3 linked regions of the Homo sapiens genome follow. The protein of the gene in region 2 interacts with the protein of the main gene of each other region in a pairwise test. Each region holds a gene or a part of one and is shown on either strand. Other genes may lie near its edges.

Region 1 (8,435 bases), on a different chromosome or scaffold from region 2:
GAACTTCTAGCTTTGCATTGTGAAGTGAGCATCATGAAGATGAGAAAATGTTGGGAGATCATTTTTGCAAAGGGCATAATAGTCGGCATTCAGATATGAGTTAACTGCAGAGGGAAAATTGCAAGCTGTCATGTTGGCCTTGTTCCTCTCAACCTTCTGGTAACCTAACAAGCTCCTACAGGTTGTATGTGAAATTGCAAGATGATTATATAGCCCTGTTGAATTTACAACCAGATCTTGCTTTCAAACCATTATTAGCCAAGGGTTTGATTCCACACCTGTGTTCATGGATTTTTTGGTACTAGACATTGCTGTAACTCTGTTTTCACTTTTTCATCTGTTATCTTGGCTCACTTAAGGGAGAAGGTATCAGCAGCCTAGGACCACTTGGTTTCTGTTTTTATGTTTCATAGTTCATGGCTGATAAAAATTACCTGTCCTTAGGCCGAGTGCAGTGCCTCACACCTGTAATCCCAGCACTTTGGGAGGCCGAGGTGAGTAGATCACCTGAGATCAGGAGTTCGAGACCAGCCTGGCCAACATGGTGAAACCCCTTCTCTACTAAAAGTACGAAAATTAGCCAGGTGTGGTGGCAGGCGCCTGTAATCCCAGCTGCTCGGGAGGCTGAGGCAGGAGAACACTCGAACCCGGGAGGCAGAGGTTGCAGCGAGCTGAGATCGCGCCATTGCACTCCAGCCTGGGCAACAAGAGCGAAACTCCGTCTCAAAAAAAAAAAAACAAAAAAAACACACACACACAGTTGGCCGGGCGCAGTGGCTCACGCTTGTAATCACAGCACTTTGGGAGGCCAAGAGGGGCGGATCATCTGAGGTCAAGAGTTCGAGACCAGCCTGGCCAACATGATGAAACCCCATCTCTACTAAAAATAAAAAAATTAGTTGGTCATGGTGGTGGTGCCTGTAATCCCAGCTACTCGGGAGGCTGAGACAGGAGAATCTCTTGAACCCAGGAGGCGGAGGTTGCAGTGAGCCGAGATGGCACCATTGCACTCCAGCCTGGACAACAAGAGCAAAACTCCATCTCCAAAAAAAAAAAAAAAAAAAAAAAGGATCCTCGTCCTGTGTTACATTTTCACTGTGAAAGCTACCAAGAACATTTTGATGGCAGGTGACATTAAAAATATTTTTTGCTTTTTTGGGTTGAAGGATTGTACAGGGGACAACTGAGATGCCTCAACATGTACCTTGCAAATGTTTGATATTTCTCAGTTGCCTGTTACCAGTTCTTACAAGCTCTATAGTTGGTATCTTGTTTGATAACAGCAAGTTTCGATCCACCTGAGGATGCCCAATGTGCCTTTGCCTTGTTATTGCTTTGTTCTTTCTTGAAATTTACTGAAAATAGAGGGGTTGTGAAGTCCTTTTTTCTCTTGTGTTAGACTAAATGAGTCTGAAAATCTTGAGGGTTTTAGTTTTGTCTGCTTTTAAATCACCCCTAATAACCCAAAGTAAAGCAGAAAGACAGGATTTGTTCTTCCAGTTAGTGCTAGGCTTTGAGATAAACACACCCACAGTGACTTCCAGCCTCATCCTTATATGTTGGCTTTGTAGAGGTCCTGGGACACCTTTGTTCCCTTGGTGACCTCCTTTACTATGTGGGTTCTGAACTGTCTAATGACATCACAGGAGGAGTTTTTCTGCTTTCTTGCAAGTATGCTAAGAAGTATATGTGCTGCCGCTCTATTTTCATTTCCTAAGGACAGTGTTCTGATGTTGGATGCTTCTCCTGGCTTTACTTAACTGTAGTAGACACATTTGACTTTCCAGCTTGTTAAGCAAGTTACCTAACCTGATTGGGTTCAGTTGCAATATCTGTCAAATGGGGAGAATAACATCCACTTTATAGAGTTGGTTAGTGGGAATGAAATGAGGTAACGTGTAAGAGCTTAGTGTAGTAGCTGACACACAATAGATGGTATGTGAATATTCCCAACCTACCCCTTCCAAGGAATGGCATTATGAGAGAACCACTTGTTTTTGACCTTTTCAGTGATTTAAAATTTTCCTTTAAGTGAAGGAATTGGCATTAGTCTTTGCACCCATAGCTTGGGTGGCAAGAAACACAAAATTTTTCCTGAGTTGGATGATGGTGGTGATAGGATTTGAAGTGGGGGATAATTTTCACTCATCTATGAAGGTGAGACTCCCTAGATATGCCACTTGGCCTCTTACTTGATCTCAAGATTATCACTTGTGATCCAATTGCTCTGTCTGGTGACCATGTTAAGTAATGATTGAAGTAGAATGACCAGAAAAACAGACTTGTTACTCCACCTAATAGCAATATGGCATACCAATTATAGTCTGGGCCACACATGGTAAAAGCAGATCTTGTTATATAATATTTAAATGCAAAGGTAACCACAGTTATCTATTTTAAACTACTTGTATTTTGAAGCACTCCTTGTATGGTAAGTATGTTTAGATACACGTAGACATTTCCTAGAGAAAGGTTTGGCCAGTCATAACTTTTGTTAGAGCAAGTAGGAATTGGCTGAGGAATATCTGGTTGAAGATCAAGGGCAGAACGCTGAAAGCTGTCAGTCGATGAATGAAATGATAAGTATTTAGTGAGCTTTCATAGTGTTCTAGACACTATGACTAAGGACTGCACATGGTTTGTCTCTGAATCCTCATAGTTTGTGAAGTAGAGACAGGACCAAGTTCCTATTTTGCAGATGAAGTAACTGAAGTTTGGGGAGGTTTTTGACTTATTCAAGATCACTCATCGAGTGACAAAGCCAGATTGTCAAGCCTGTCTCTGACTCCAGAACTCCATCTTAACAGCTCTGCTGTACTGATTTTGACCTAGTTTTAGGAACTATAGGAAGGAAATGTGATCAAACCCAGATCACTTTTCTAATCTACCCAGGCATTTTGTGTCCACCGTTAACATCCAAGCTCTGATTCTGGCAACTTGAAATTACTCTTGGCTTTACACTTATGTAGAAGAAAACAATTCTGTTAAACACTGTGGCCCTTCTGGAAACATGATGGTCTTTTCCTGTAGAGGCCTTTTCTTCCTTTTACTTCCTCTGTGCCAGGTCCATGGGTAATTCCCCTAAAATTGGTACCTTTCTCATAAATTCTATCAAAACTAGGGCAAAAATGATAGTTGTTGATGGCTTTTATCAGAGTTGGTAAGTTTTGATTCTCTTCTCTACATCTTATTTCCCCTTGGTGTAGCACAGTGGTTGAAAGCAGGGAATCTAAAGCCACAGACCTGAGTGAATCTTGCCCCACTTGCATCTTGGGACAAGAAACATAACTTTTATGAGCCTATTTTCATACTTGTAAAATAGGGATATTACTTACTACTGTAAATAGGCATAATACTTATACTCATTACTGTAAATGGTTAGCACTAAGCACTTAATAATCAGATATTCTTGTTAAAGTGAATTTGACTATTGAAATTAATGTTTTCTTCTCTGCAGCTATTGAAATATTTGAAGAAACTCTCCACCCTGCCTATTACAGTAGACATTCTTGCGGTAAGAACTGTGTGACTTTAAATATTATATAATGATATCCCATTCCCTTCTCACTGGAGAGTGTGTAGAATAAGGTTACAAGTATGGGCTTTGGAAGTGAAAGAAACCAGACACAAAAGGCCATATATTGTCTGATTCCATTTATATGAAATGTCCAGAATAGGCAAATCCATAGACAGAAAGTAGATTAGTGGTTGCCAGGGGCTAGGAGAATTGGGAGGAACAGGATTTCTTTTTAGGGTAATGTAAATGTTCTGGAATTAGATGGTTATAATGGTTATATAATATTGTGAATGTTCTGGAAACCACTGAATTATGTACTTTAGTTAAAGTGGTGAATATTGTTAAATGACTTTATTTCAAAATTAGAATTAAAAGAACATTGACTTTGGCATCAATTAGTCCCAGATTCAAATCTGAGTTCTATGACTTTAGGCTGTTCCTATGTAAAATGGGTCTGATTCCTGCTTCACAGGGTTATTGTAAAGACTGATTCAGAACTGTATGCAAAGCTCTTATCTTAGTGCCTAACACCTGCCCTAATCACTCTTGTTATTAAAGTTCTGAACTTGGTACGCTTTGCTACTGTGTGTCATTAGAGATTTGGGGCATAGACACAAAGTAATTTAGTGTTAAGATTTGCAGGGTATGTTGTAGGAAGGAAGTATTGCTTGTTGAGTTTCTCAAAGTAGAAAGCCTTATTTCTTTAGAAAAACGTTAGCCTAGTTCCAGACCCCTCTAACAATTACTTTGTCAAATTTTAGGAGACTGGGGTTGGGAAAACAGTAAATAGCTTGCGAAAACACGAGCATGTTGGAAGCTTTGCCAGGGACCTAGTGGCCCAGTGGAAGAAGCTGGTTCCTGTGGAACGGTAAGAACATTTCTCTTTAGGTTTGTTCAATTTCATGGTTAAATTTACAGATAGAAAAGGTTTTCTTTATTATTTCTCTTTTGCCTTCTGAAATTGTTTTGCCTCAATTATAAAAAATAATCCATGATCATTGTAGAATATTAGAAAATATTAAAAATAGAAATCAAAATTTCCTATTTCTATCACGCAAAGACAAACGTTATGAACATTTTGGTACGTTTCTTTTTTTTTTTTTTTTTTTTTTTGAGACAGAGTCTCGCTCTGTTGCCCAGGCTGGAGTGCAGTGGCGTGATCTCGGCTCACTGCAAGCTCCGCCTCCCAGGTTCACGCCATTCTCCTGCCTCAGCCTCCTGAGTAGCTGGGACCACAGGCACCCGCCACCACGCCCGGCTAATTTTTTGTATTTTTAGTAGAGACAGGGTTTCGCCGTATTAGCCAGGATAGGATGGTTTTGATCTCCTGACCTCGTGATCTGCCCGCCTCGGCCTCCCAAAGTGCTGGGATTACAGGCGTGAGCCACCGCGGCTGGCCTGGTATGTTTCTTTCTAACTGCTCCTTAAATGGCATTTTTTTAAGTTGTGAACTAGATAAATAGTGAGCAGCCCCCATTTTATATAACAAATTAAACATGTCCCCATGTTTTAATAAATCTCCACATTTTCATGTATATGAGATATTTGATCTTTGCATCTTGTGGTTAAACTCACCATTTCTCATTTGGGTTTTCCCAGTTTTAAGATTTGAGTATCTTTAAGCATAACCTACTTATCTTCTTCTTAAGACCTTGTTGTTTCTAACTCTGCATCTTCACTTCTTTGGTGAGTTCAGATTCTGTGACTTTGTCCCTCAAGAAGCAAGATTTAGACCTACTTTGTCTGCTTTTTCTTTTATTTTAGAAATGCTGAGCCTGATGAACAGGACTTTGAGAAGAGCAATTCCCGAAAGCGCCCTCGGGATGCCCTGCAGAAGGAGGAGGAGATGGAGGGGGACTACCAAGAAACCTGGAAAGCCACGGGGAGCCGATCCTATAGCCCTGACCACAGGCAGAAGAAACATAGGAAACTCTCGGAGCTCGAGAGACCTCACAAAGTGTCTCACGGTCATGAGAGGAGAGATGAGAGAAAGAGGTGTCACAGAATGTCACCAACTTACTCTTCAGACCCTGAGTCTTCTGATTATGGCCATGTTCAATCCCCTCCATCTTGTACCAGTCCTCATCAGATGTACGTCGACCACTACAGATCCCTGGAGGAGGACCAGGAGCCCATTGTTTCACACCAGAAGCCTGGGAAAGGCCACAGCAATGCCTTTCAGGACAGACTCGGGGCCAGCCAAGAACGACACCTGGGTGAACCCCATGGGAAAGGGGTTGTGAGTCAAAACAAGGAGCACAAATCTTCCCACAAGGACAAACGCCCCGTGGATGCCAAGAGTGATGAGAAGGCCTCTGTGGTGAGCAGAGAGAAATCACACAAGGCCCTCTCCAAAGAGGAGAACCGAAGGCCACCCTCAGGGGACAATGCAAGGGAGAAACCGCCCTCTAGTGGCGTAAAGAAAGAGAAGGACAGAGAGGGCAGCAGCCTGAAGAAGAAGTGTTTGCCTCCCTCAGAGGCCGCTTCAGACAACCACCTGAAAAAGCCAAAGCACAGAGACCCAGAGAAAGCCAAATTGGACAAAAGCAAGCAAGGTCTGGACAGCTTTGACACAGGAAAAGGAGCAGGAGACCTGTTGCCCAAGGTAAAAGAGAAGGGTTCTAACAACCTAAAGACTCCAGAAGGGAAAGTCAAAACTAATTTGGATAGAAAGTCACTGGGCTCCCTCCCTAAAGTTGAGGAGACAGATATGGAGGATGAATTCGAGCAGCCAACCATGTCTTTTGAATCCTACCTCAGCTATGACCAGCCCCGGAAGAAAAAGAAAAAGATTGTGAAAACTTCAGCCACGGCACTTGGAGATAAAGGACTTAAAAAAAATGACTCTAAAAGCACTGGTAAAAACTTGGACTCAGTTCAGAAATTACCCAAGGTGAACAAAACCAAGTCAGAGAAGCCGGCTGGAGCTGATTTAGCCAAGCTGAGAAAGGTAACCCCTTCAGCCCCTTGGTGGCTTCCCACCCAGAGCACCTGGCCCTGCAGAGCTCAGAGGATTGCCCTGCCACTGTTTTCCTTAGCTTGCTTTTGGGGGGCATGTTGAATTTCAGTGTGCAGTAATTTCCTCTGGGCTTCACTGGTTGTCAGGGTATATGGTACCGCAAATAAGAATTTTCTGCATTATTCTCTTGTGATGGGCTCATCTGTATTTATTTCCTGACTGAGGTGGTGTCAGACATGACTGTGGCCCCCTCCAACCTGGATCTTCCTGTGCAAGATGTCCAGTTAATGCTCCCGGGAATAGACTGTAGGAAAGAGAGCTGTGCTTCTACTCACTGACTCTCCACCCATGGGTCTGTCCCCTGCAGGTGCCTGATGTGTTGCCAGTGTTGCCAGACCTCCCGTTACCCGCGATACAGGCCAATTACCGTCCACTGCCTTCCCTCGAGCTGATATCCTCCTTCCAGCCAAAGCGAAAAGGTAATTTTCTATATCTTCTTTTTCTTAATGGGAAAAAGATTTAAAAATTCATTCAAGGCAGGGTACAGTGGCTCACACCTATAATTCCAGCACTTTGGGAGGCCGAGGTAAGAGGATTGCTTGCGGCCAAGGGTTCTAAACCAACCAGGCGTGGTGGCTCACTCCTGTAATCCCAGCACTTTGGGAGGCCGAGGCGGGCAGATCACCTTAGGTAAGAAGTTCGAGATTAGCCTGGCCAACATGGTGAAACCCTGTCTCTACTAAAAATACAAAAATTAGCCAGGCATGGTGGTGCGTGCCTGTAATCCCAGCTACTCCGGAGGCTGAGGCAGGAGAATTGCTTGAACCTGGGAGGTGGAGGTTGCAGTGGGCCGAGATTACGCCATTGCACTCAAGCCTGGGTGACAAGAGGGAAACTCTATTTCAAAAAAAAGGAGTTCTAAACCACCCTGGTCAACACAGCAAGATGCTGTCTCTACAAGAGAAAAAAAGTAGCCAGGCATGGTGGCACATCCCAGGTACTCGGTAGGCTGAGGTGGGAGTATCACTTGAGCCCAGGAGTTCAAGGCTGCAGTGAGCTCTGATTGCATCACTGCACTCTAGCTTGGGTGACAGAGCAAGACTGTTTCAAAAACAAACAAAAAAACTATCACCATAACATCAGATTTTTGATGCATTTCCTAAGTGCATAGACTCTGAAGTTTGATGGCTTGGGTTTGAATCCCAACTCTGGTTTCTGCAAGTTATATGACCTTGAGAAATATCTTAATTTCTTTGGACCTTAGTTGTATATATTGTGTAAATGGGAGTTATAATGGTATCTGCCCCATAGGGCTCAGTTTAATGAATTCAGAAGTGATGCCTTTTTGCTCTGGGTTTATCACATAGTAATTGTTCAGTAAATTGCTGCTGCTGTTATTAGCAGCCCTTTATCCTATGTGTTACATAGGATTTTTGTCTGAAAGAAAAAAATGTCTAATTTTCATAGCAAAAGAAGTAGAAGCCACATAAGGGTCTATCAGCAGGAGACTAACAGATAAATCATGGTTCATCTACACAGTGGCATCCTATGCCACAGTAAAAAAAAAATGTGGAAAGTCTATGCACTGACATGGAATGATCTCTCAGATGTGGCAAATGAAAAAAAGCAATGTATGTAGTGAGTATGTTATTAATTGATTCATTGGCTTAAAAGGAATAAGATACATTTGCTTTTTTTTGTTGTTGCTGTTGAGAGTCTTGCTGTGTTACTCAGGCTGGAGTGCAGTAGCTCCATCTTGGCTCACTGCAGCCTCCACCTCCTAGGTTCAAGCAATTCCTCTGCCTCAGCCTCCTGAGTAGCTGGGACTACAGGTGCATGTTGGGCAGGCTGATCTCGAACTCTTGACCTCAGATGATTCATGTGCCTTGGCCTCCTAAAGTGCTGGGATTACAGGAGCTTATTTTTAAATTCTCTGGAAGGATCTACAAAAATCTGTAG
Region 2 (8,614 bases):
CATGGTGCAACCTTGTCTCTATCTCTCTCTCTACACACACACACACACACACACAAATTAGCTGGGCGTGGTGGCGTGTGCTTACAGTCACACACACACACAAAAGATGCTATTCCAAACAGGGAAGGTAAATAAGTTTTGAAAGTCTTTAATTTCACCCCTCCAGGAACTCTCGATAATACTTATTTTAATTTTTATTGTTTAGAGACAGGGTCTCACTGCCTTGCTCAGACTGGACTTAAACTCCTGGGTTCAAGTGATCCTCCCACATCAGCCTCCCAAGTAGCTGGGACTACAGGCGTGTGCCACCACACCCAGCCATTCTGGATGATACTTTGTAAACTTTTAAAACAAATACCTCTGGAGGTCTTCAGGTCCTAATACCTGCATAACCTGCTCATTCACATCTTCATTAATCAGCCTACAGAGTTTTCCAACAGTGCTTACTAGCACACACAATGAGGATGAACTATCTGCAAAAGAGAAATAAAAGGATATTTTAACAGAGAATTTCCAAAATTACATACATCAAACATTTTATGCTTCAGTTATCCTCAATTTTTCACTTAAACATTTTTTAATCTACTTTTTGTTAATTTATTAAAAATTCTTAAATGGGGGCCCAAAATGACAAATTAGGTCATCACCTAATTCTAAGAGTTCTTGGAGGTTTCTCACAGCATTGTTCATTTCTCCAAGCCTAGTATAAACTTCATTCATTCGGGGATAGACTCCATTTAAAGAAGGCACATCAAATAACTTTTGGAAGTGAGAAACAATAGCTTGCAAAGTTTGAAAGTGTGGCATATTGCTGTCCTGTCCAAAAAAGAGGTAAAAAAGAAAGAGTTCATTATCTTAAAATAATCCCAAATAAAAACTTTTAAAAGACAAATAGAACTCTAGTAGAACAAATATCAATATCCACAATTTATCAGTTTTTGAGATAAGAAACATTAGAAGGTGACCGTTCATGTAGGTATTACCTTTTCCTTATTTTCAACTTCTTCCAGCATAGTATCTACTATAAACAACAAATCTTCAACTTTGATACCTTCATTTTCATCCTGCTTCTTCAAATTAAGCCAAGGTACCAGTTCTGCAGATAGTGTTTTCAAGGACTTATACAAATCCTTTATAACAAAAGAAACTATATGGTATTATTGATTTAAATAATTTCTATAGTAACATAATAGAACATAATTAGTAAAATTATAAGTTTTATATATTATATGTTTTATAAAATTAATAAAACATAATTACACAGGTTAAAAAAATATATATGTAACCATCATTTTTTTTAAATAAAAATACTACTACCAATTTAGAACAAGTCAGTTAAAATTAGGTTTCTCCAGGTAAACACAGGCTTTACAGAAAACATTATATATTGATTATTCTGAATCTGAGTGCTCTAAGTAATTTTATGTTATTTATTATTGTTCCATAATATTTCATTATTTTGAATTGTTGATACACAAAGAATAAACTTGCCCTTGAATTTTGGTTTTGAATATGTTATATAACAGCTTTATTGAGATGTAATTCATATACCATAAAATTTACCCTAAGTATACAATTCAGTAGTTTTAATATTTTCACACATGTACAAACATCAGCACTATCCAATTTCAGAACATATTCATTACTCCAAAAAGAAATCTCAGACCCACTAAGAGTCCTTCCTTCCCCATTTTCCCTTCCCTGCAGCTCCTAGGGTTAATCTCTAAACTATTTTCTGTTTCTATGGATTTGCCTATTCTAGGCATTTTGCATAAAGGGAATTATACAATAAGTAGTCTTTTATGAATGACGTCTCTCACTTAGCATAATGTTTTTAAGATTTATCCATGTTATAACATGTATCTCCAGGCAAGTTTTTAATGTGAAAGGTTCCCTAAATGTATTCTACATTATAATACTCCACTTAGTTTTCTTGGCCTAGTTGTGGTGCCCTAATTGATTTTAAACTGTGCACAATGGGCAAGGCTACTGAAAGTTTAGAGCTCTAGACTGATCAATCGACAAATATTTAGAATTCCTAGTCCGAAAATCTGAAATGCTCCAAAATCTGAAACTCTGAGCAACAACAGGACACTCAAAAGAAATGCTCATTGGAGCATTCTGAATTTCGGATTTTTGGATCAGTGATGCTCAAATGGCATATATTCTGCAAATACTCCAAAATCTGAAAAAATTCTTAATCAAAATACTTCTAGGCCCAAGCACTGTGGATAAGGGATACTCAATCCATATGTGTATGGCACAGCGCTTGGTCCTTTAGAACAACGCTGTCCAAAAGAAATGTAATGTGAGCCACAGTAATTTTAAGTTGTCTAGGGCCATAGTATGGAAAGTGAAAAGAAACATGTGATATTAACTGTACTAGTATATTTTATTTAACCCAATATATCCAAAATATTATCATTTCAATATAAAATCAATTATTTTAATTTTTCCCATACAAAGTCTTCTAAATCCAGTGTATATTTTACACTTATAACACATCTGAATTAGGACTAGCCACCTTTCAAGTGATCAATAACCACATGCAGCTAGAGGCTACCATACTAGACAGCACAGCTCTAGAGAACAGAAAGAAGTACAAGAAGTTCCTCCTTTTTCTAACTTATTTTAGTACTTCACTTGACACTCTCCACTTAAGGCTCAGACTTCACATATTGGTATCTTTAACCTTTCAATTGGTAGGAAGGCAGTTACTATTTTAGTAATTCATAGCAATAAATTCCATGTCAAATGAATGTTTTACAATCAATGCCACTAGAATTTGAAAAAAAAAAAAGTCAGCAAGTAACAGCATAATGATACCTTTATTAACCAATGCTCCAGGAACAAGGCACATTTATAAAGTAATCTATGGTAAAAAGCATACCCAATCTAATACATTTTTGCTTCAGAATAAAAGAGTATTACAAAGCTAAGAAGAAAAGATGTTCTGGTCTCCTAAGCAGTGACAGGATGGTTGTAGCACAGTCCATCAAGTAAGCTCTGAAAAATATAAGAGGGTCTCCTAGGTTCTTTACATTGCCCAGTTGTGGAGATGTAGAAGTACTACCATGAGCCAGCCTACCGTGTACGTCTGGCCTCTGAAGCACTGGAGAATAGCAAAGCAAAAGTATTCAAGAGTGTACTGGGTTGGGGAAAGCTACAACATCTGTAGTTCACCTTTCTTGGAAAGGCAGGAGGGAAAAGACACAAGGCTGGAGGCAGCTGGCTCCATGTCTTTCCCAGCCTTCTTTTCTTCCAATTTTTAAAACTAGTAAAATACCCATAAAATTCACCATCTTAACAATTTTTAAATGTAAGTTCAGTGTTAATATGTTCATAATGTTGTGCAACCAACATCACCATCCATCTCCATAATTCTTTTCATCTTGTAACACTGAAACTTTATACCCATTAAACAATAACTTCCCATTTCCCTCCTCCCTCTAGCCATCACCACTCTACTTTGTCTCTATGATTTTCACTAAGTATCTCATACAAGTGGAATCATATAAGTGGAATCTTCTTGTGACTGACTTATTTCACTTAGCATAATGTCCTCATAATGTTCACCCATGTTGCAAGGGTCAGAATTTCTTTCCTTTTAATGGCTGAATAATATTGCAATATATGTATATACCACATTTTGCTTATCCATTCATCCCTCAAACCTATCTTACTCTTTAAAGCCAAATTTAACCTGAGGGAAAAAACTAATCTGGGAAGATGGTTGTCCCAAACTTAGAGGTTGCTACATATCAAATAACCTTTGATATGAGGCCTCAGAGAATCTCATGTAGTTTCTTAATTTGGACCCTGAAACTGTAGTATTAATATCTGAAGCACTGCTCAAAATCCATGAGTTACTCCAATGGCAGAAGTAACTAATTCTTAATAATTTCTTCTTGGGTGTCCTCAGAATATTCTAATTATAAAGCGAATTCCTTGCCTCCTCCTCCTCCTCAGAAAACCATACAATAGCAAGAACTCACCACCATGGCAAAGCCCTTCTTGGGGGCTACAATCAGAGTGTTCTCTTTCTCCTCCAGACTCTAGAGCACAAGTTATCTGCATCATTCACTCAGAACTTCAACCGGTAATCTATTTTTATGTCACTCATTTCCTTTAACGATATAAATGATTACATTTTGTTTCATATTTTTTAGTATATTTTGTCTAATTAGTCTGAATCTTGTGTTCATCCCATAATGGCTTAGCATGATAAACGATCAATAACTATCCATTAGTGTGATTCTTCCCTTTGTCTTCTTCCTCTTCTAGTCTTTTCTTCTAGGAAGGCTAGGGCTTTTTCTAGTCCATCCCTTCTGAGATGAAGAAAGGTGGAGTCAGCACTGTTTCCTCCTACTGGGAGAACCCTCTGACAGGCAGTGATTGAGGAAATACCATGATTTACACTATTACTAATTATTTTACACTCTTCTGAGATACAGACTGGAGGAACTCCGGTCTATAAAGTAAGTATATTAATCTAGCACTGTCACTCAATCAAAATGTTTATGTATTGTATAGCTCTGTCTGAGCCCTATATAAAAAGGGAAGTCGAAATTTAAAAAAAATTAACATCACCACCCCCAATTTTGTTGTCTTGGAATATAATATTCTGCTTCATTCCTTTTAACAAATATTAATTGAGCACTCATTCATCAGGAGGATCTTGGGGACATATCAGAACAAATAAAAACACTGTCTTCATGGAGCTTATACATTCTTAACAGATATCTTCTGCATCATTTGTACTTCATGTAATAAGACTTATGTTGCAAACACTGTTATTGAATCACATTTTCATTAACAGGCATATGCTATGTATTATATTAGTTACTAATAAATCTAAAGTGTAAAGGGCAAAGAAGTTAAATACTACTGATTTCAACTATTTACCTTTCAGCAAACTAGTTAACAAAAACTGAAAAAACCTGAAGCTATGCAATAAATACACAATAACTCTATAAATAAAATGTGGTCTTCCATGAAGAGATAGGATAGGGAAGGGTAGCGTTGGCTGCTAGCTTACTATCTGTTCTAGAGAATAAGCAGAAATGGAGATAAGCTCAGTTCTGAGAGACAGAAAATAAAGTGTGAAGAGAGAGAAAATATCCCCAATTATAATAAAATGAAGGATAAGACATTATATCTGAAGAGGGATAAGGGCCAGGAAAATCGCAGCATGGAGATATGAAAAGGAGGCAGATGAAGGTAGAACAGGGAAGGGCCTAGAAGTACAAAGTGGATCCACTATAGATTTTCAATAAGGAAACTAACCCCAAAATTTCTTGTTTGGTAGAATCTTAGAGGAGGTAAAGCTTACAGTAATGACAACATCAAATAGACAGTACCTAAAATAGATATGTAAGTAGGAAGATTTCGGTTTTAGATAATAAGCTTTTTTAGCTTTAGAGTTAACACACAAACAAAAAAATTAAACCCTATTTAATTTTTAGCCCTGAATTAAGTCCTATTAATAAAGCACATAGAGTCCAATAGATGTTCAAAGCATATAATCATAGTCAACCCCTTACCTTTAAGGATGTCAGTTGATCTGCCCACATTTCTATTACAGGAACAAGATGCTCAAATCCACAATCTTGAACAAGATCTTTATTAAAATTTTGGACTCCCCCTTTGGTCTGTTTATAAATTATTACTGGAGCTCTTGGATTGTGGATAATTGAATTGATGCTACACAGCACCTTTAAAAAAACATAGTGTATATAGTCAAAATATTTATCCTATGCCTACAAAGTTATATATTTTAAAGGAGTGCTTTATGTCTATATATATTATATACACATATTTCATTAAATATACAAAGAAAATTATCATAAGGAATTGGCTCATGCAATTATGAAGACTGACAAGTCCCAAGATCTGCAGTGAGTAAGCGAAGACCCAGAAAAGGTAATGGGTATTTGCAGTCCAAATGCAGGCAGACTGAGACCCCTGCAAGTGCTAATGTTTCAGTTTGAGTCTGAAGGCAAGAAAAAAACCAGTGTCCCATCTTGAAAGCAGTCAGGGAGGAGGAGCTCCCTCTTATTCAGCCTTTTGTTCTACTCAGGGCTTTGAATCATTGGATGAGGCCCACCCCATTAGGAAAGGCAGTCTGATTTACTAAAGTCTACTGATTCGGATGTCAATCTCATCCAGAAGCACCTTCCCAGACACATCCAGAATAATGTTTAACCAAATATCGGGCATCCTATGCCGCAGTAAAGTTGAAACAAAATTAACTATTACAAACACTACCTAGGTTCAAAAATTGTTAGTATTTTGCCATATTTGCTCACTATCTATATTTTTAGGTGAACCATTTGAAGAAACTCTTCACCCTCAAATAATAAAGCATGCATCTTTTAAAAGTAGGCATATTCTCCTACAAACTCACAAGAACATTATCAGACTATTTAAGGAAATTAACAGCAATCCCCAGGCTGAGTGTGGTGGCTCATGCCTGTAATCCCAGCACTTTGGGAGGTTGAGGCAGGAGGATCACTTGAGCCCAGGAATTCAAGGCTGCAGTGAGCTATGATAATGCACTTCAGCCTGGGCAACAGAGCAAGACCCTGTCTCCAAAAATAATATCATTGATGCCTGGATTGAATTTTAGGTATCTTAATATATTAAGATAGTATACTATTTGACTATAACCCTCTCCCCATAAGTGATGGGTTCTACCTTACATATCATCCGAGGAAAAAAAGGGAGACCTCAAAAAGCATGTTTAAAGAGAGAAGAATAAAGCCATTTCCTATTACCACCATCAAGTTCAGCCTATTTAATAAAAAGTTTCACAATATAAAGATAGCATTTTGCTCTTGAATCTTTGTCCCTGGTCATACTTCAAGATATAACTAATAGGCCTCCTGGTAATATGACTTAAGATGTTTATTACTTCAGATGTTTATTTAGAAGCTTTTTAAGTCCAAATTAGTATAATTCAATATTTCACTTCAAATTGATGTATGTATATTTGTTTTATATATTTATTTGACAGAGTCTCACTCTGCAGCCTAAGATGGAGTGCAGTGGTGTGAACGGAGCTCACTGCAGCGTTGAATTCCTGGGCTCAAGTGATCTTCCCATGTCAACCTCTCAAGTGCTAGGACTACAGGCACAAGCCACCATGCCCAGCTAATTAAATTTTTTTTTTTCTAGAGATGTGGTCTCACTATATTGCCCAGGCTGGTCTCAAACTCCTGCCCTCTAGCAATCCTCCTGCCTCGGTCACCCAAAGTGTTAAGATTACAGGCATGAGCCACCATACCCGGCTTGAATTCCCCTTTTAAAGGACAAAGCCTCTCAAATTGAGTCTCAGAAACAAAATGAAATCCAGTTATATACTGGTACAAGAAAGTCTAAAACAAAACAGTTTTCAGAAAGGTGCTTGGTTCCCATTTACAATAGCAATAAAAGTTATAAAATACCTAGGAAATAACAAGGTATTTCCTAACAAGAAATATGCAAGAGCTAAATTTAAAAATACACAACACTTTATTGAAGACTATAAAAGATGACCCTGATGAAAGTACATATTTCTGAATGTGATGATTCAAAAAGGTTAAGGTGTCATTTCTCCAAATATTAATCTATAAAGTCAATTCAATTTTAGTTCATCTCAATGAGATTTATTTTTTAATTTGAAAAACTGTTCATCCAGAAGAATAAATGTGCTAAAAATATAGCCAATAAAAAAAATTTTTTTAATGATAGGATACTTGCCTCAAAGGCTATTAAAACTTTTAACTATAGAAATTAAAATATGGAAATAGTTGAGAAATGCAACAGACTAGAGAATCTAAAAACAAATCTGTGCATATAAATGAATATGATCTATGATAAAATGTTATTTCAATAAAGTAGAGAAAAAAGTAGCGTATTAGAGACTGCAAACACAAATGCCCAGAGAATTCAGGTACGAGTATAAATGAGTGACGTAAGGATGAATAGGGACTGCTAACTATAGAACACATGCTCATATCTGACAAGGGAAAGGCCTAATTCTGCTGTGATAATAACCATGCAGGAATTTGTTGCCAGATCTTCTGACTTTTTAGGAGAAGTTAGAAATAGCAGCCTAGAAAAAATAAAATATCTTAATTTTTAAAAAAATGAATAATCTAAAACTTAAAAATCTTATGTGTACCCAATAAAATGTGAGTGAAAGTCCAGTTCAGTCACTAAACTACCAGGTTTAACTGCTCAGCTATTCAATAAATGATCTATAAAACTAGGAAGGTGAGATTCCCTATATCACACCATATAGAAAATTAAATTTCAGATGAACTAAGGTCTCTAAACAAAAACAAAAGCCATACAAGGACCCTAAGAAAATAGATTTACTTAATAATAATGGTAACAACAGAAACAATACGAGGGAAAATGGCTTACATGGGGAAAGTAGGGAAAAGGATTATAGAAACTTTTAAAAATCATAAAGCTCTTTACTAACCTCCTTTGAACTAGGCCAGAGTCTCTTTTAAGTAGTAAGACGAATTCTACAATGTTTTTAGTCAAATAGTTATGTCACGGAAAGACAAGACAGAATAAGTACACATAAATATGAGGTGCAAGTATTCCTTACCAACTGATAATT
Region 3 (4,411 bases), on a different chromosome or scaffold from region 2:
ATGCCTGTAAACCCAACACTTTGGGAGGCCAAGGCGGGTAGATCACCTGAGGTCAGGAGTTCAAGACCAGCCTGGCCAACATGGCAAAACCCCATCTCTACTAAAAATGCAAAAATTAGCCAGGCATGGTGGTGGGCACCTGTAATCCCAGCTACTTGGGAGGCTGAGGCAGGAGAATCACTGAACCCAGGAGGCAGAGGTTGTTGTGAGCTGAGATTGCACCACTGCACTTCAGCCTGGGGGACAGAGCAAAACTCCATCTCAAAAAAAAAAATAAAAGCTGCTGTGCAGAAGACCATGCTCTACTTCCTGTATTTCAGCATCTCATGGCCTTCTCTTCCCCAGATCTCTTTGTTGGGCAGCTAAAGAGCTCGCTGACGTGTACAGATTGTGGTTACTGTTCTACGGTCTTCGACCCCTTCTGGGACCTCTCACTGCCCATTGCTAAGGTATGCACCCCAGTTGCCCGCCTTGTTGAACTCCCTCTCCTGTCCTTTCATGTTGACCTCTGACCTTTGCTTTTTTCCCCTTCCCAGCGAGGTTATCCTGAGGTGACATTAATGGACTGCATGAGGCTCTTCACCAAAGAGGATGTGCTTGATGGAGATGAAAAGCCAGTAAGTCACCCTTCGGTAATAGCAAGAACAAATTTCCGTGGGACCTACTGGGAAGAGGCTGATACCAGCAGATCCAGTTGAGGAGTGACTGGATTGGGGCCCACTGACTTCCCCACAAGTTCTTTCTGTTTGTCTTGTCTCTCAGACATGCTGTCGCTGCCGAGGCAGAAAACGGTGTATAAAGAAGTTCTCCATCCAGAGGTTCCCAAAGATCTTGGTGCTCCGTATCCTTAAGATCCATCAGGGCTGGGACATGACTTTCAAGGGTGACTGATGACAAGGGGCCCATAGGTGAGGGGAACAGTCGGAAGAAACGGACCTTGTAGGCTTTCCTTTTGTTGTCTGCCCTTCTGCATTGGTTTGACTATCCTTGACTCACGTCAATGCCAGATCTGAAGCGGTTCTCAGAATCCAGGATCCGAACCAGCAAGCTCACAACATTTGTGAACTTCCCCCTAAGAGACCTGGACTTAAGAGAATTTGCCTCAGAAAACACCAGTGAGTATCTTTGAGTAGGCAGGGCAGAATGAAGACGCAGGTGTGCAAGGCCGGAGGGAGGGCAGGAGGAAGGGGAGCTGCCAGCACCAGCTACTGAGAGACCCAGAAGGAGAGGTTGGAGGGGGGAAGTCGGGGCAGGGGGGCCTCGGGGGCTTGACGGCTGCCTCCTCCTCAGACCATGCTGTTTACAACCTGTACGCTGTGTCCAATCACTCCGGAACCACCATGGGTGGCCACTATACAGCCTACTGTCGCAGTCCAGGGACAGGAGAATGGCACACTTTCAACGACTCCAGGTGAGAGCCAGGGCAGGGCCGGAGCCCCTGGCTGTAGCCACCCACTCTCCCCCCACTCCTCCACCCTCCCCCCAAACCCACCCCCCTCCCACCCCCCGCACGGCTTACACCGAGAATGGATGGCAAAGTTTAAGGCCACGAAGCCGCTGCCCGTGGGGAGGCTCCCTGAAAGGCAGGCCGGCCGGCCTCGGGGGCACAGAAAGAAGCCGGCGGGGGGTCTCCCGGTCCTGCCCGCTCCGGGCTGACTCCCCGCTCTCTCCGCAGCGTCACTCCCATGTCCTCCAGCCAAGTGCGCACCAGCGACGCCTACCTGCTCTTCTACGAACTGGCCAGCCCGCCCTCCCGAATGTAGCGCCAGGAGCCACGTCCCTTCTCCCTTCCCCGTGGTGGCCCCGCTCCCTAAATTTTTTAAAAAGACAAAAACAAAACAACAACAACAACACACAAACCTGACAAGAGAAAAACAAACCTGAAGCTGCCGAGCAGGAGTGGATGCAGCCTGATCAGGGTCTGGAGCAAGGAGCCGGGCTTTCCTGAGCTGTGGCCCGGCAGGGAAGATCGCCTGGACGTGGAGCCAGCATCGCCCCGTGCCCTCGGCGTTTGCATTTGTAAACTTGTGGTCTTCCTATGTGTCAGAAACAACTGTGTCTTGGGGGGGAAGACCCTCGCTGCGCCGCTTCCCGCCGCAGCGCCCGCGCCTCCGAGGGGACAGCGCCCTCTGGAGCTCGCTGGGAGCATCACCGCCTGGACGCCCGCGCCGCGGAGGAGCCGGCGCCCATCTCCACCCGCACGGCTCGCCGGTCCAGAGCCATGAGCCAAGAGCCCTCTTCACGCTGCTAACTCCAGGGGACAGACGAAGGGACATCTTTGGAAAACGCTGGTTTTGGTTTTTAAAAAGCCCAACTTTTTTTTTTTAATTTCCATAACTAAAGTGTTCAGACTGGAGTGCTCTCCTTCAGGCCTCTTCATAGCTGGGACGTTGCACTGGTCCTTTTATTGCTTTTCCAAGTACAACTTTCTAATGCTAGCCCTCCGTGGTGCTAGGTGGGCGTTGGCCAGGCCCCAAGCACAGCCACAGTAGACCTGGGATCTAAAACAAGTTTCTGTTTTGGGGGTTTGGGTTTTTTTTTTTTTTTTTTAATGTTTTGAATGGAATTTAGTTGCCTCCAAGAATTGTGCCTTATAGCATTTGGGGACCAGGGGGTAACTGCCCCTCCTGAAATATCCCTCAGCCTCTTCCCTTTTCCCCAGTGCTCTGTTCAAACCCGCCTGGGAAAGGGATCCTGCCCTTAGCCCTGGCTCGTTGTGCATTGCAGTGAGGCAAAGAAGAAAGCAGGTAGATTCCTTCCGACAGGGCATCAAGTTCTTCCCGCCCACGTCCTCTAGCCCACCCCTGGTCTGCTCCCCAGCTGTTTGAAGGATAGCACAAGCCCCTCGTCCCTAGAGCTTCTCTCCCTTTTATTTATTCTCTTAACATCCCTTTCCCCCTGGCCTTCCTGCCCCCGCCCCCTTCTCAGAGCCTCCTAGACAATAGGCCCTTTGGACCGAGTTTCTCAGGGATGCCCAGGCCACCCCTCAGCTCTTCTTAGCGCTGGTCTCCAGTCCTGCCCTGGGAGCTGGAGCCTGGGTATTTGGGGACATCTTGCCTCAGTTGTATGGTTCTTTCCTGTGGGCTCAATTTTGCCCTACATAGTTGGATAAAACTCTGTGCTGTCCTGGAGAGTAAAGCTGTTCACCCACACAGCTGGGCCCGGCTTGTGCCCCGTGGAGCCTGGCACATTCCAGGCTCCTAGGAGGAGGCATCAGAGAAAGACACCCTGAGTTTTACTGGCCTGACACCCTTCTCCAGAGAAGACCTGTGAACCTGAGCCCAAGGGCAAGTGTACACTTGTTTACTGTGTAAGCAAGAGTAGAAGAATGTCTAATGTACAGTGGAACCTTGTACAGAATAAATAATAGCTTTGAGAAATCAGTTGGCAGATGTTGGAATCTTGATTTGGGAGTGTTTGAATCTAGGAAGGGCTCCTAGTATATTAGGGGCCATCTATTTCATTGTTTCAACCAGTTTGTAAATTCCAAGTTTCTGGAAAAAGTTACCCACTTTTTAGTTTGAACATTTAAGTTTAATTTTTTAAAAACTGAAACAATACATATTTTGGACACTATATTCTTCATCTGGATTCACCAATTGTTTACAAACACATTTAAATATACAGCCATCCCCCAGTATACACAGGGAGATTGGTTCCAAGATACACACATACCAAAATCTGCACCATATTCAAGTCCCAAGGTCACCCCTGCAGAACCTGCGTATATGAAAATCAGCCTTCTATATATGTGGGTTTTGCATCTTACAAATGCAGTATTTTCTATCCTTATTTGGTTGAAAAAATCCACGTGAAAGTGGACCCACACAGTTCAAGCCCGCATTGTTCAAAGGTCAACTGTACTTTATTCTGTCTGCCGAAACATTTTCAGGTGAGGTGTTATATCACCACTTCTAAATACTTGAGCATACATCTCCTAAGAATCAGGACATTCTCCTATGTGACATGGTTTTCACATGTCCATTTTTTTTTTTAATGAACTGTCTACTTTTTAATGCTGGTATGGGCTACTCTCTTAATTCTTGGTTGAAACTCTTGGGGCTGGGCATGGTGGCTCACACCAGTAATTCAAGAAGTTGAAGTGAGAGGATGGCTTAAGGCCAGGAGTTTGAGACCAGCCTGGGCAACATAGTGAGACCCTGTCTCTATGAAAAAAGAAACACTTGGGTGTTTTCACAGACCTATGATAAGATAAAATACATCTCTCCAGCAGATGTCAAATATAGCAAAACTTGCTCTTAGAGCAGAGTATCATTACCTGGATGTGGAGTGACCAGGGCTTAGTCTTTTTTTTTTTTTTTTTTTTTTTTTGAGACAGAGTTTCACTCTTGTTGCCCAGGCTGGAGCGCAATGGCATGATCTCAGCTCACTGCAACCTCCATCTCCTGGG

The links. The genes of interacting proteins can lie anywhere in the genome.
Region 1: the proteins of CEP70 (region 2) and ELOA interact in binary tests that used the Homo sapiens proteins (3 or more experiments, as listed by UniProt).
Region 3: the proteins of CEP70 (region 2) and USP2 interact in binary tests that used the Homo sapiens proteins (3 or more experiments, as listed by UniProt).

Annotation. Positions count from the first base shown.
Region 1 is NC_000001.11:23,745,564-23,753,998, forward strand, and holds part of ELOA (elongin-A), read left to right. Parts: intron 1-3,457; coding exon 3,458-3,514; intron 3,515-4,278; coding exon 4,279-4,385; intron 4,386-5,281; coding exon 5,282-6,467; intron 6,468-6,843; coding exon 6,844-6,955; intron 6,956-8,435. UniProt on the Homo sapiens protein: SIII, also known as elongin, is a general transcription elongation factor that increases the RNA polymerase II transcription elongation past template-encoded arresting sites.
Region 2 is NC_000003.12:138,499,752-138,508,365, forward strand, and holds part of CEP70 (centrosomal protein of 70 kDa), read right to left. Parts: intron 5,715-8,614; coding exon 5,544-5,714; intron 4,127-5,543; coding exon of another isoform or gene 4,085-4,126; exon of another isoform or gene 1,499-4,084; intron 1,131-1,498; coding exon 984-1,130; intron 817-983; coding exon 648-816; intron 474-647; coding exon 359-473; coding exon of another isoform or gene 346-358; exon of another isoform or gene 133-345; intron 1-132.
Region 3 is NC_000011.10:119,354,187-119,358,597, reverse strand, and holds the end of USP2 (ubiquitin carboxyl-terminal hydrolase 2), read left to right. Parts: intron 1-345; coding exon 346-449; intron 450-536; coding exon 537-617; intron 618-762; coding exon 763-841; intron 842-1,007; coding exon 1,008-1,115; intron 1,116-1,290; coding exon 1,291-1,411; intron 1,412-1,675; coding exon 1,676-1,763; 3' UTR 1,764-3,383; downstream 3,384-4,411. UniProt on the Homo sapiens protein: Hydrolase that deubiquitinates polyubiquitinated target proteins such as MDM2, MDM4 and CCND1. Isoform 1 and isoform 4 possess both ubiquitin-specific peptidase and isopeptidase activities.